2 linked regions of the Homo sapiens genome follow. Each later gene encodes a partner of the first gene's protein in a complex. Each region holds a gene or a part of one and is shown in the gene's direction. Other genes may lie near its edges.

Region 1 (9,434 bases):
CTTGAACCCAGGAGGCAGAGATTGCAGTGGGCCAAGATCGCGCCACTGCACTCCAGCCTGGGTGACAGAGGGAGATTCTGTCTCAAAAACAAAAAGGAAGGACTGTAGTTCTGATAGGTTTGGAAAGAGGAATGAACAGATCTGTGAAAAATGTAGGATACAGACCAGGCAAGTTAAGATTTATTAGATATGAGAAGGAAGGAGAGGCAAGAGAAATGTTAAGCAACAGTTAGCTGTGCTGGGCACTGAATAGGCCCTTCATCTACATAAACACTTTTCTTTTTCTTTTCTTTTCTTTTCTTTTTTTTTTTTTTTTGAGAGGGAGTCTTGCTCTGATGCCCAGGCTAGAGTGCAGTGGCACGATCTCAGCTCACTGCAACCTCCGCCTCCTGGATTCAAGCGATTCTCCTGTCTCAGCCTCCAGAGTATCTGGGACTATAGGCGTGCATCACCACGCCTGGCTAATTTTTGTATTTTTTTAGTAGAGACGGAGTTTCACCATATTGGCCAGGCTGGTCTCAAACTCCTGACCTCGTGATTAGCCCGCCTCGGCGTCCCAAAGTGCTGGGATTACAGGCGTGAGCCACCGCATCCATCATCTTTTCTTTTTCTTTTTCTTTTTTCTTTTTTTTTTTTTGCGACAGTCTCCCTCTGTCGCCCAGTCTGGAGCATCGTGGTGCGATCTCGGCTCACTACAACATCGGCCTCCTGGGTACAAGCAATTCTCATGCCTCAGCCTTCTGAGTAGGCGGGATTACAGGCACCCACCACAATGCCTGGCTAAATTTTTGTGTATTTTTAGTAGAGACAGGGTTTCACTATGTTGGCCAGACTGGTCTCGAACGCCTGACCTCGTGATCCACCCGCCTCGGCCTCCCAGAGTGCTGGGATTACAGGCGTGAGCTACCGCGCCCAGCCCTCGTCTGGTACTTAAGAAAAACCTGTAATCCCAGCTATTCAGGAGGCTGAGGCAGGGGAATCGTGTGAACCCGGGAGGCGGAGGTTGCAGTGAGCCAAGATCGTGCCACTGCACTCCAGCCTGGGTGACAGAATGAGACTCCGTCTCCAAAAAAAAAAAAAAAAAAAAAAAAAGTACCAGAAGAGTTGGTACCTAGAAAGAAATTAATCTACAGAGTGGTGAATTATGTTGGATTTTAGGCACATTAGGCCTAACCCGACACAACCTCCTCTAGGGGCCCTTACCCTTTCCAACAAATGGCCTAGAATTCTTTTCTGTCCAGGGGTCAGGAAAAACAAAGTTGAGAAGAAGTTTGTTAAAGTTCTCTGAATGCTTTAAAAGGGGAAATTTGCAAGACTAAAGAATGGATTGGAGGGGAGGTAGGTTTGGAGGAAGAAGGGGGTGGGGCCCTGAAAAGGCTTCAAGGAGCTGCTCTGAGCTGAAAGGGGATAAGGATCTTCTTGGAGAACTGGGGCATCTGATTGGAACACCTGCGAAAGCTTAAGCGATGAGGTTGTGCCCCTCTTGCAGTACAAGGCTGCAAATTATCCAAGCCAAGGGCAGAAATCTCAATGTCCTTGTTACTCCATATGGCCTTGGGATTCTCCCATGGCCCTCCAGTAAAGCGCTGCTAGGTCCCGGAAAGGCTGTGGCAGTGGTGGGGTTGGGGTTAAGGATAATCCCACTCCTTGGCCAGTGGATGGACAGTCACCCATGTCTCTACTGTGGACCACAGGACAGCGAAGGCACCAACTGGCAGACAAGTCCCAGGTGGGAGCGAGTATAAGGATGCGTCTCCTTTTCTTCCTTCTAGAGGGTAACTAGGGGGATATGGAGGGAGCATGCACGGTGGGAGGCTGAGGATTGCCACATTCGATTCATGAGTTATTGTTTGCTGATGGGGTCCTGAGATTCTGACTGAGATCTGTAATTCTGAAGCCTTCTCACTCTTCCTGGCAGATGGCCAATGTTTCAGTATTGAGTTTGTAAGGGTGCTATTTATGAGGCAGGAAAAGAAAAAAAAAAATGTGTTGTTGTGTTGCACCGCAGGGCTATCAAGTGTGACCCCAATATATTTCTTTCTTTTTCTTTTTTTTTTTTTTTTTGAGACTATAAATCTCACTCTGTCACTTAGGCTGGAGTGCAGTGGTGAAATCACAACTCACTGCAGCCTTGACTCCCACCTCAGCCTCCCAAGTAGCTGGGACTACAGGCACATGCCACCACTCTTGGCCAATTAAAAAAAAATTTTTTTTAGAGACAGGTCTCCCTGTGTTGCCCAGGCTGGTCTCAAACTCCCTGGCTCAAGTGATCATTCTGCCTGGACCTCCCGAAGTGCTGGGATTACAGGTGTGAGTCACCACACCTAGCTTACCACAGTATTTCTTAAATCTCAGTGGCCAGACCTGGGATAAGTTGCTATTCAAAAGCAGCTTGTAGGTTTTTTGTTTTGTTTTGTTTTGTTTTTGAGACAGAGTCTCGCTCTGTCGCCAGGCTGGAGTGCAGTGGCGTGATCTCGGCTTACTGCAACCTCCGCCTCCCGGGTTCAAGTGATTCTCCTGCCTCAGCCTCCCAAGTAGCTGGGATTACGGGCACGCGCCACCACGCCCAGTTAATTTTTAGTAGAGATGGGGTTTCACCATGTTGGCCAGGATGGTCTCGATCTCTTGACCTCGTGATCCGCCTGCCGCGGCCTCCCAAAGTGCTGGGATTACAGGCATGAACCACCGTGCCTGGCAGAGCTTGTAGTTTTCTGATTTATGTGTGTGTGTGTTTTTTAACTTGGAAAAAAAAATTGTTCTCTTAGGATGTATGATTCGTGTTTAAATGAAGACTGCTCTTTTATTTGGGAGAATCCTCTCCCAGTACTTGAGCGGGCTTCTTGGTTTGGCAAAGGCAAAGCCCAACTCTCAATAGTGAGTGGAAGGGACAGACGTAACTGAACTGCTTTGCACAATAATGCCAATGACTGTCTTTTGTTAATAGGAGTCCTGACTCTTGATTACATTTACGGGGAGTCCAGCCTGAAATAGTCGGGGTAGAGGTAGAGGGAAAAGTCCCTTCTGTTGGCAGCTTGCCAAAGGTGTTACGAGTAAAGGGATGGCCTTGAGGTGAAGGGAATTCCTTTGCGAGACAATAGGCCAGGGACTATAGATGCTACATAATCTAATAGCCACTTCTAAGTCTTCTCAGCTTTGTAATGCCCCAAACTTTCAGCAACAGCCTGGTTGGTGTTTGCTATGCTTAGGGGAATAAGGGAGGCGGGTGTGTCCACACTTAGGATTTGCTTCCATCCTCTAGGATATGACCCCAGCCCCCGAGGCCAGAGTGGTGGTAGCTTCAGGTGTGTGGCTGGTGATTCTGAAGCTCTAGGGGGTGGCTTGCAGCACAATTCTGGAATGCTACATATATATATATATATATATATATATATATATATATATATATATACACACATACACACACACACACACACATACACACACACATGTATTTATTTTATTTATTTATTTTTTGAGACAGAGTCTTGCTCTGTTGCCTAGGCTGGAGTGCAGTGGTGCAATCTCCGCTTACTGCAACCTCCACCTCCCAGGTTCAAGCGATTCTCCTGCCTCAGCCTTCCAAGTAGCTGGGATTACAGGAGTGTACTACCATGCCTGGCTAATTTTTGTATTTTTTTTTTTAGTAGAGATGGGGTTGTCTCACCATGTTGGCCAGGCTGGTCTTGAACTCCTGTCCTCAAGTGATCCGCCTGCCTTGGCATCCCAAAATGCTGGGATTACAGGCGTGTGCCACCACACCCGGCCTGGAATGCTGTCTATTGAGGAAAGGAAGAGGCTGTACTGGGGAGTGCCAGCGTTGAAGTTCAAGCAAGTGTAAAACTCTGGCCTTAACTGAATCACAAGTAGGAAACAAGTTAATCAGGAATGGATTTGTGGGGCATGAAAACCTTTGAGGATTCTTAGGATTGTTTGGAAGAGGGGACTGGATTTTCTATCACTAAATAGGGTGGGATTTGTTTTACAGTTGATAATTTTTTGATGGGGTGCGTCAGGGTCCCACTCTGTCACCCTGGCTGGAGTGCAGTGGCGTGATCACGACTCACTGCAGTCTCAACCTCCTGGGCTCAAGTGATCGTCTCACCTCAGCCTACCAAGTAGTTGGGACTACAGGTGCGTGCCACCACACCCGGCTAATTTTTGTATTTTTTGTAAAGATGGGGTTTTACTATGTTGCACAGACTGGTCTCAAACTCCTGGGCTCAAGCTATCTGCCCACCTCAGCCTCCCAAAGTGCTGGGATTAAAGGCAGGAGCCACCGCGCCCGGCCTATAGTTGACAATTAACTAGAAGTGTGACATTGGAATTATAGAGGGAGAGTAACGAGACTCATTACTTACTAGCCCAGGGTAGGAGACATTAGTGGGCCGCAGGTTTCATCCTTAAATTTCTGTGAAGCCTTTCTTGAGGACATCTGCCCTTTCCTTCTCTCCCTCAGTGTGTGGTTTTCCTTTCTCTGGCTCCCACTGCACTCTGCACATACCTTTATCACAGCAACCACTTACGGTGTATTGTAATTTGTAATTATCTATGTACATGTCTCCAAGTAGACTGACCTCAAGGGCGAGGGACTGGCGCTGGTACTCAGACCCCGGGTTCAAGTTCCAGCCACGTCTCTAGCTAGTTTTGTGATCTTAGACAAATAACTTAATCGCTCTATGCCTCAATTTCCTTGACTTATAAAACTGGCTTAAGACTCTCTGTCACACGCCATTGCTGGGCATATTAAGGTGACAATGCGTGAAAAGTACGAGGCAAAAGGTAAGTGCAAAATAAAGGGCGCCTAAAACGGTAAACGTGTGTTAATTAACCTGATCTACCTTTACATGTGCATTCAGCAAACACTGAGCACCTAATGTCCTCTGGGACCCCGGAACGCCTCCTCCGGAGTGGAGCAGCCTCACATGTGGCCTGTGGGCCTTGTCCCACGGGCCGGCTCCGGATTGGCTCCGCCGAAGAGAAAACCCTGCCGACAGCCCTTCCGATCTCGTCAGCGATTGGGCCGGGACCGTCCCACAATTACTCTTGTTGCTGGGCTCGGAAATAGGGAGCGGTGCTAGGTTGCGCGTGCGCAGATTGAGAATGGAGCTTTCCGGTCGGGCGGGAGGAGGTGACGTCAGGAGTGGTGGCGGGCGGGGGCCTCTGGTAGCCCTGGGGACGCTGTATCTGTGGGCTCTTGAATCGCGTCACAAATCAGCGACCGAACTCTGGCGGTGGTGGTTAAGACGGCGAAGGCGGCAGCGGCGGCGACAGCTCTGGGGTTTGCGTCTCGGGGTGTGTCGGCCGCCGCTGCTGCTTGGGCCTGGTATGTACAGATGGCTGGTTAGGATTCTCGGCACCATTTTCCGTTTCTGCGACCGGTCGGTGCCCCCTGCCCGGGCCCTCCTGAAGAGGCGGCGCTCAGACAGGTGAGACGAGAGGGGGCTGAGCGCCAGCCTGGCCTTACCCCCTCCCCCACAGCGGGCTCCTCGGCCGTGATAGCTTTGATTCAGCCAGGCTCACCCGAAACAGGTCGCCGGGATCCTAGTGACGTAGTCGCTCCCGCCAGGCTGTAGGGAGGCAGCTCCTGATGAAGGAGGAGCTGGTCGTCTTCGTAGCGGCCGGTGATGGCAGGGTCTTTGACATTCTTGTCAGAGGCCAAGCTGGTTGCTGATAACAAATGGGGCTTTGCCGCTCTTAGGCTGAACACTAACATTGAAGGAATACTGTCTTTGTTGTGGCTCACTGTTTACAAAGCACCCTCGCAAGTGTCATCTGCAGACATTAAGTGCAGTTGAAGTGAGATTCATAGCTTGCCCAAAGCCGTTTTGACTGCAAGTACTGTCCTTGCAGCAAGAAACAGCACCTGTTTTGTTCCAAAACAGCTGTCAAACAGTCTGTGTGTTTGGGGCCAGAAGGGTTTTGTGCTTTAGAATTAGTGAATGAGTAAAAAGGCTTAGGTGCCTCACTCCTTTAAAACAATCACTAGTCTGTACTCTTAAATTCGGTTAAAATTTGGGGGAAACGCAAAGCTATTCTTTTCTTTTTTTCTTTTTCTTTTGGTTGAGACGGAGTCTTGCTCTGTCGCCCAGGCTGGAGTGCAGTGGTGCGATCTCGGCTTACCGCAACCTCCGCCTCCTGGGTTCAAGCGATTCCCCTGCCTCAGCCTCCCAAGTAGCTGGGATTGCAGGTGTGCACCACCACGCCTGGCTAATTTTTGTGTTTTTAGTAGAGATGGGGTTTCACTATATTGGCTAGGCTGGCCTTGAACTCCTGACCTCAAGTGATCCGCCCACCCCAGCCTTTGGAAGTGCTGGGACTGCAGGCATGAGCCACTGCACTCAGCCCCAAAAGCTATTCTTATTTAGCATCTACTCTTTGGAGTGTCCCATTTTATTGTATCGACCTCCTTACCTAAAAATCTGGAAAATAAAATACTATACAAATTCTATGCCCCCTCTTCAACTTTAGTGATCAAGTGTTAATTTTTTTTTTTTTTGAGAAGGAGTCTCGCTCTGTCCCCCAGGCTGGAGTGCAGTGGCGCAATCTCGGCTCACTGCAAGCTCTGCCTCCGGGAGTCACGCCATTCTCCTGCCTCAGCCTCCCCAGTAGCTGGGACTACAGGCGCCCGCCACCATGCCCGGCTATTTTTTTTTTTTTTTTTTTTGAGACAGAGTCTCATTTTGTTGCCCAGGCTGAAGTGCGGTGGCACGATCTCAGCTCACTGCAACCTCTGCCCACTGGGTTCAGGCGATTCTTCTGCCTCAGCCTCCGGAATAGCTGGGATTACAGGCGCCTGCCACTGCACCCGGCTTATATTTTTTGTATTTTTTTTAGTAGAGACGGGGTTTCACCATCTTGGCCAGGCTAGTCTTGAACTCCTGACCTCGTGATCCACCCGCCTCAGCCTCCCAAAGTGCTGGGATTACAGGCCTGAGCCACAGCGCCCGGCCACTACCGGCTAATTTTTTTTTTTTTTTTTTTTTTTTTGAGGCGGAGTCTCGCTCTGTCGCCCAGGCTGGAGTGCAATGGCGCGATCTCGGCTCACTGCAACCTCCGCCTTCCAGGTTCACGCCTTTCTCCTGCCTCAGCCTCCCGAGTAGCTGGGACTACAGGCGCCCGCCACCACGCCCAGCTAATTTTTTGTATTTTTAGTAGAGACGGGGTTTCACCGTGGTCTCGATCTCCTGACCTCAGGATCCGCCCGTCTCGGTCTCCCAGAGTGCTGGGATTACAGGCGTGAGCCACCGCGCCCGGCCCTCGCCCGACTAATTTTTTGTATTTTTTAGTAGAGACGGGGTTTCACCGTGTTAGCCAGGATGGTCTGGATCTCCTGACCTCGTGATCCACCCGCCTCGGCCTCCCAAAATGCTGGGACTACAGACGTGAGCCACCGGGCCCGGCCGTTAATTTCATTTTTTAAATTAAGCCTCAATATCAAGAAAAGTGGAAGAAGTGTTCATTTGTGGGAGCTTGAGAGAACAAGATGTCTAATACATTAGTCTGAGAATGCAGGTTATTGATGAGATTGGTTGTTGGCTAAATTGCATCGTGTGTTCCAGAGATACATGGTTTTGCCTTATTTTTCTCTCCTATCTTTCCGTTGGGTTGATATAAGGATCATTTGAGAACGTGGTGTAAAGTGCCTAAACTGATGCTTAATGTATATAAGGGTAGTATTTGTCTGTCCTACTCTGGGGCCTTTTGCAGAGTCTGGTGCATGATAAGCACTTGGTCCCTATTTATGGAATAAGGGAAAGCTAATTTCCTCTCCCTTGTCCTCTCCTTGATGTGAATCCCTGCTAGTCAGTGGAACATGGTTTGGCGATCAAAACCTTGATCTTTACTATACTTTAGGTGTTCACATCCTTAATCCAAAACAACACTTCTCAGTGTAAACCAATTTTCAGTCAAAATGAAGCCCGGCAGGGCTTGTTGGAATGTATAAAGTTATGAGCTGAATGGAATCCTGGGATCTCATTCTATTCATTTTTTTTTTTTGCATGTGTGAATATAATTGATCATAAGGGTTCAGAGAGATGATGAGTAATATACTATGACCCTTTAGCATTCTTGACATCTGGGTCCTGAAACTTTCCTCAATTCCAAAGTTCTTTATTACCATCATAATGTAGTTTGCGTGATAAAAATGAAGTTAAATATAACACTTGATTAAGATTTGTCTTTTTTAAGTTGTAGAACAGTTTTTTTTAACTCCCTTACACACACACAAAAGAAAAAACAGTAAAAAAGAATTGTCTTTTAAGGCTGTTCATATTAATACTGTCACCTAAAGTAAAAGATGGCTTTCTTTGGGGATCATTTTCAAAAGGAAATTGCTTGTTTGTTGTTTTTAAATCATTTCTGGAGCGAAAGAGAAAATACTGTCCTAAACTCTTACCTGGGTTCATTTACTAGCTAAGTGACTTTGGCCAGTTTTAAGTTTGTACTTTAACCAGATGGCAAATTATTATTTGGTAAGAAGTTTGTTTCTCTCTCAAATAGTTGAAACTGTAGCAGTAAGTCTTCGCATGTGAAAAGCCTACTATAGAATAGCATTCTCTCTTTTGTTTTGCTTTTATTTTTAGTTTTATTTCTTTTTAAAACAAGGTCTCACTCTTTTGATTAGGCTGGAGTGCAGTGGCATGACCTGGGCTCACTGCAGCCTTACTTCCTGGGCTCAAGTGATCCTCCTGCCTTAGTGTAGCTGGGACCACACTCACTTACCACCAAGGCTGGCTAATTTTTTATTTATTTTTTTATCGTAGAGATGAGGTCTTACTTTGTTGCCCAGGCTGATGTCAAACTCCAAGGCTCAAGCGATCCTCCCCCTTGGCCTCCCAAAGTGCTGGGATTACAGGCACGAGCCACTGTGTCCCACCAGCATTCTCTTTTAAAACATCAGTTGGATCTCATTTTATGACAAAGTGATAGAAGGGGGATGTGTTATATGAATAGTAAGTTTACTTACAGAAATGAATGTGTGTGTAAATCTATATATATATATTTTTTTCTTTCTCTTTTTCAGCACTCTGTTTTCTACAGTGGACACTGATGAAATACCAGCCAAAAGACCAAGATTAGGTACTGAATATAAATTTTAAAAATTTTTAGTTTTTAAATAGGAAAAATATATGCATGGAACAAAATTCAAAAGGTAAAAAGTATCTGGTAAAAAGTAAGTCTTGGCCGGGCGCAGTGGCTGTAATCCTAGCACTTTGGGAGGCCAAGGCAGGCGGATCACCTGAGGTCAGGAGTTTGAGACCAGCCTGGCCAACATGGCAAAACCCTGTCTCTACTAAAAATACAAAAATTAGCTTGCTGTGGTGGCAGGAGCTTGTAATCCCAGCTACTCGGGAGGCTGAGGCAGGAGAATCGCTTGAACCTGGGAGGTGGAGGTTGCTGTGAGCCAAGATGGTGCCATTGCACTTCAGCCT
Region 2 (4,826 bases), on another chromosome or scaffold:
ACCGCGTGAAAGAGATTGTAGGCCCACTGGTGAGTTTTTAATACTGAGCTGGATCATAAATCTGCATATCAGAATGCTGATACTTGGATTAAAATATTTGGTTTTTGAATTAAGCCGTATCTGGAAATGTTTAATGGCCACTGCTTTTCCTCTCCAGGGCTTGTCAGTGAGACTAATGGCCACTGCTTTTCCTTTCCAGGGCTTGCCAGTGAGACTAATGGCCACTGCTTTTCCTTTCCAGGGCTTGTCAATGAGGCAGATCAGATTCAGGTTCGACGGGCAGCCAATCAATGAAACTGACACTCCAGCACAGGTACGGAGCTGGCTTCGCGTGGTTCCAGGGCGACTTCCGATTTGTGCGGGGTAACTGCCATTTGGGATACGCTTATTTGAGAATTGTAGGTGGGAGCTCATACAGAATGCCTTAATGATATTGATTATTAGATTATTTATTTTTCACATTTTAAATTTAAATTTTCAAATGAGAAAACTGCTTTGCAGACATCATTCTTGCTGTTTGGAGATGGAGCCAAGTGCTGGGCCCGTCCTCACTGTAAGGGAAGCGGGGGTGCAAGGACCACTCAGCGGCCCCTTCCCACTCATTGTCTGGACGCTTGCTGTTGTAGCCCGTGTGCAGCTTAGGGGCCAGCTGGATTCTTGTGCCCTTTAAGCATCTTGCACAAGTGACGTGGGTGGGCAGAATGTGCCATAACCCCTGATTATCAGTCTGCACAGCTCGTTTCTCTCAGGCACATGCAGACATGAATGAGATTTCATCTATCACGTTGCAGGGCATCATACTGTCATGGAAAGAGCTTTGGACCTGGAAACAGACTTTTTTTTTTGAGACGGAGTCTCGCTTTGTTGCCCAGGCTAGAATGCAGTGGCGCAGTCTCAGCTCACTGTGCAAGCTCTGCCTCCTGAGTTCACGCCATTCTCCTGCCTCAGCCTCCCAAGTAGCTGGGACTATAGGTGCCCACCACCACTCCCGGCTAATTTTTTTGTATTTTTAGTAGAGACGGGGTTTCACCATGTTAGCCAGGATGGTCTCGATCTCCTGACCTTGTGATCTGCCCACCTCAGCCCCCCAAAGTGCTGGGATTAAAGGCATGAGCCAACGCGCCCGGCCGAAACAGAGTTTTTTTTTAAACTTGGTTCAAGTTGCAGCTCTTGTCATTTGTCAGCTGATGGCCCCGTGACCAAGCATCACTTCATCTTGTGGAGTCTCAGTTTTGTCTGTCCATAAATGGAACCAATACCTGCTTTTTCTCCCTTTCAATGTTGTGAGAATCCACTGGAATGTTTTATGTGGAAATATTTTTGCAAAACATTTAAGATTTTAAATATTTACTATTCAGTATTTAATAAATATTGAAAACATCTTTGCAACAAGTATCCATTTGTACCTACTTGAGGAAACCTACACACCGCTGAGGCAGTGGCAGCTCTGGGAGTGTTCACCAGGGAGAAGCTGCTGAGAGCAGCTGAGCAGGGAGGGCCTCGTGGAGTCTCTGGGGCTTGACTGGGGGTCAGGGGGCTGGCTGTGGACAGGTGGACCGAGAGGCAGAGGGAGCCCTGCCTGGGGGCTCTCCCTCCAGCCCATAGTGTCGGTGGCAGGGTGAGGGTGGCCGACAGCCCTGATGGGACTCCTTTCCATCTGGGAGCATGACTACTTCCAGCCTTGCTGAGTCTGTGTAGGAACTGGCAGAAGCTTCCTCTTGCTTAGAGGATGGAAGAAGATCAGGGTGGGTGTTTTGCGCCCACTGTGTCAGGAGGAGAGAAGTGAGCGGGGGTGTTTCACTACCTTGCCTGGGCTTTAAATGGGGAGGGGCGGGGAGAAGCTGGCAATGGACCCTCACTTGACGGGCCCTTCTGTGAGCTGGGGGCTTTGGCTTTCATGGCATGGTCCCCCGCACTTGGTATAAAGCGCAAGGCTCCTGTGGGTCCTAGGACTCAGTGCTGCTAATCAGATGTTCTTAATTAGAATCTGATTTTGTGTAATTTTCAGTAAGAATTTTAGACATTTCAGTTTATCTTCTAGACTCAGTTTTTCTCTCAGTTAACATTTTAGCTTTGAATCTGCTTTTGTGAGTTTTGTTAGGGGAAGCTTGTTGAACCGTAAGGGCTGTAGTGAGCATACAGCAATGCCTCTTCCATGCGTGCTGAGCTGCAGTGAGGGGACGGACAAGAGCCAAGGTGTGACCAGGTGATGTCGCTAGTGTCAGGGAACACTCATGCCAGTGAGGATCTTCCCACTCTCTGATGAAAACTAACAGGCTCCCCTCTCTCTCGCTGTGCCTGTTGTGACAACCATGACAGCTGGAGATGGAGGACGAGGACACCATCGACGTGTTCCAGCAGCAGACGGGAGGTGTGCCGGAGAGCAGCCTGGCAGGGCACAGTTTCTAGAGGGCCCGTCCCCAGCCCGGGCCGTCCATCCTCGCATTGCTGTTGAATGGTGAGCACGTGACCATGCCGACCACAAAGGTGTCTGCGGAAACTCGAGGACATTCACCACGATGATTTTCCTCTCTTTGATGTACTTCAAGTGCAACTCAAAACTATATCTGCAGGGATGAATCTGTAACTTAAATTGGGCCAATCAGAATTGTTATCTTTGTTCAGGTAAAATGAGTTGCAAGATATTGTGGGTACTTTTGTGTGCTCATTTGTGTTTTCCCCCCCTCCTACAACATTTTTTTAACCCCAAAATTATAGCCTGAATGTTCGCTTTTAGTCTGGCCAGGGATCTGACTCCTGAGTTGGTTGCCTCTCCCCTGCTCACTCCAGTCACATAGAGAATTGGTGTTTCCCGCAGTGGGGATGCAGCTGTTGGACAGGTATTGGGGGCAAGGTTGGTAGGGAGGACAGACTGTCACTTGCTGTTACAGGCACAGGTGATTAAAATGCTAAATATTGCAAATTTAAGCTTTGTCAGTATATGGAAAAGTTGAAGGGAAAATACTGGAATGCTTCTTCAAAGGTTAAAAAATAACCGAGTCTTTTGGTAATTTGACCCCACGTGCTCTCTGGCCCTCAAGCATGTAACCTCGGGGTCTGAGGCCCAGGACCCACCCCCCTGCCACCCCTCCCACCCCACTCCCTGCTCAGTACCTGGCGTTGGTACACAGGCAAGGATTGGCACAACCAAAATTGGCCTTTTTCTCCCTCTTAATATTGAAGAAATTCCCACATTTCTCATTTGGTAATGGTGTTGTGGCCTCAGATTTCTTCTAGTATTTGCTTCTGATGAATGATTATGGTCTATACATAAAAAAGTAAGACTAAGTATTGCTGAATTTGCAGTTATGTTGTCGTGTATAAGAGCTACTTCCAAGTGTGGTTACAAATGAACCCATGGAATGATGACTTCATGTTCTTCTCGTGGGTTTGTGCCGTGCTGCTTTCCAAATAGGTATTGAATTTATGCATTAGTCTGGTGATTTCAGTTCTGTGAAATATTTTGGGATCTATACCAATTAAACATTTTCATAGTTCTGCCTATTGTCCTTCCCTGAGGCTCCATTGCTGCTTGGTGGCCATTCTCTGCCTTTTTACAGTCACCTGAACAATGACCCATCATCTCTTGCTTGCTTGAAATCTTGCTGAAATGTTCTCATTTCCTGTTTGCTGTATGGGCTCGGGTGGGATGTTTGTTGGCTCTGTTGTGTTTATTCACCAATTTGTACATTATTTGTTGTCCTTTACTACTGTAAACAGTAAATATAGTTTGGTATTCTGTCTCTTGGCTTCTACTAAACACTGCATTTGAAGGTTGGGGCATACTGGTACAATTCAGTGTTTGAATTGACCATTCCAGGCAGCCACTGCACTGAGAAACTTTGATTGAAAAGCTAGCCGCTGGAAGGTTAGTATTCGCCTGGCAGCTCATTTCCCCTCCCCTGGCACATCACCAATGCTAGTCCAGCCTTCTTCCTGCTGAGGGATGCATCCTCTCCTCAGAGACCTCCTGGCTGACAGCTGTCTGAGCTGGCATCACTGTGACATGTTACCCTCCCTCTCCTGGGTTTCGTATGTAAAGAAAGGGTGGATTTTAGAGGCAGGTGAGCTTGGGTGTTAGTCTAGGACATCTCTCGTTTTCTGGTGTTTGAATGTAAGTCAGCTTTCCTTCTGCCATGGACAACTTACCTATCTGCTTTGAAACTGAACTGACATTGATTTGGCTTTAAGAATTTCCCAGTGTGCAGTGGTGTAACAAAACCCAGGTTGAAAATGAGCTGTTTTAGCCCATCAGTTGAATGAACCCAAGGTGAAGAAAGATGGGCAGCTGTGGAGATGGAACACGTGATTCACTTGCACCAGGAAGAGTGCACGGATTAAGGCACAATACAGGATGGGGACATCTGCCAGATTCCCTAGGCAGCCTGGGGCGAAGCGGCTGCCAAAATCAATGAGGAAAGGGATGTGTCCCAGGCACCGTAGGTTAGATAAGAATAATGGCCAGGAGCATATGTGGATGTATTAGGGCAGCGCTGCTTGAACTTCCACCCACAACACCTCACAGCAGAACCAGCAGGATGTCCTGTCTTTCTAAAAAAGATTTGTAGAGATGGAGCTCTCACTATATTGCTGTATTAGTGCATCCTCACATTACTATAAAGAACTACCTGAGACTGGGTAATTTATAAAGAAAAGAGGTTTAATTGACTCATAGTTCTGTAGGCTGTACAGGAAGCATGGCTAGGGAGGCCTCAGGAAACTTATAATCATGGCAGAAGAGGAAGGGCATGGACACAAATCCAAACCATAAATCAGTTGCCCAAGCTGATCTCAGACTCCTGGCCTCAAGTGATCCTCGTGCCTCA

What was found. The genes of interacting proteins can lie anywhere in the genome.
Region 2: the proteins of SENP2 (region 1) and SUMO3 are in contact, whole or in part, in a crystal structure (PDB 2IO1), measured with the Homo sapiens proteins. Residues at the interface, in NP_067640.2 of Homo sapiens: Gln385, Asp386, Phe393, Lys394, Leu395, Arg396, Trp410, Leu411, Asn412, Asp413, Glu414, Ser439, Thr440, Phe441, Pro444, Lys445, Arg456, Trp457, Lys459, His474, Lys476, Val477, His478, Trp479, Met497, Gln499, Gln542, Asn544, Gly545, Ser546; in NP_008867.2 of Homo sapiens: Arg55, Arg58, Arg60, Phe61, Asp62, Gly63, Pro65, Asn67, Asp70, Leu75 (codon at 2,320), Asp81 (codon at 2,338), Asp84 (codon at 2,347), Phe86 (codon at 2,353), Gln87 (codon at 2,356), Gln88 (codon at 2,359), Gln89 (codon at 2,362), Thr90 (codon at 2,365), Gly91 (codon at 2,368), Gly92 (codon at 2,371), Val93 (codon at 2,374), Pro94 (codon at 2,377), Glu95 (codon at 2,380).

The regions. Positions count from the first base shown.
Region 1 is NC_000003.12:185,581,089-185,590,522, forward strand, and holds the start of SENP2 (sentrin-specific protease 2), read left to right. Parts: upstream 1-5,206; 5' UTR 5,207-5,325; coding exon 5,326-5,426; intron 5,427-9,025; coding exon 9,026-9,081; intron 9,082-9,434. UniProt on the Homo sapiens protein: Protease that catalyzes two essential functions in the SUMO pathway.
Region 2 is NC_000021.9:44,804,534-44,809,359, reverse strand, and holds the end of SUMO3 (small ubiquitin-related modifier 3 isoform 1 precursor), read left to right. Parts: intron 1-241; coding exon 242-313; intron 314-2,319; coding exon 2,320-2,409; 3' UTR 2,410-3,743; downstream 3,744-4,826. UniProt on the Homo sapiens protein: Ubiquitin-like protein which can be covalently attached to target lysines either as a monomer or as a lysine-linked polymer. Does not seem to be involved in protein degradation and may function as an antagonist of ubiquitin in the degradation process.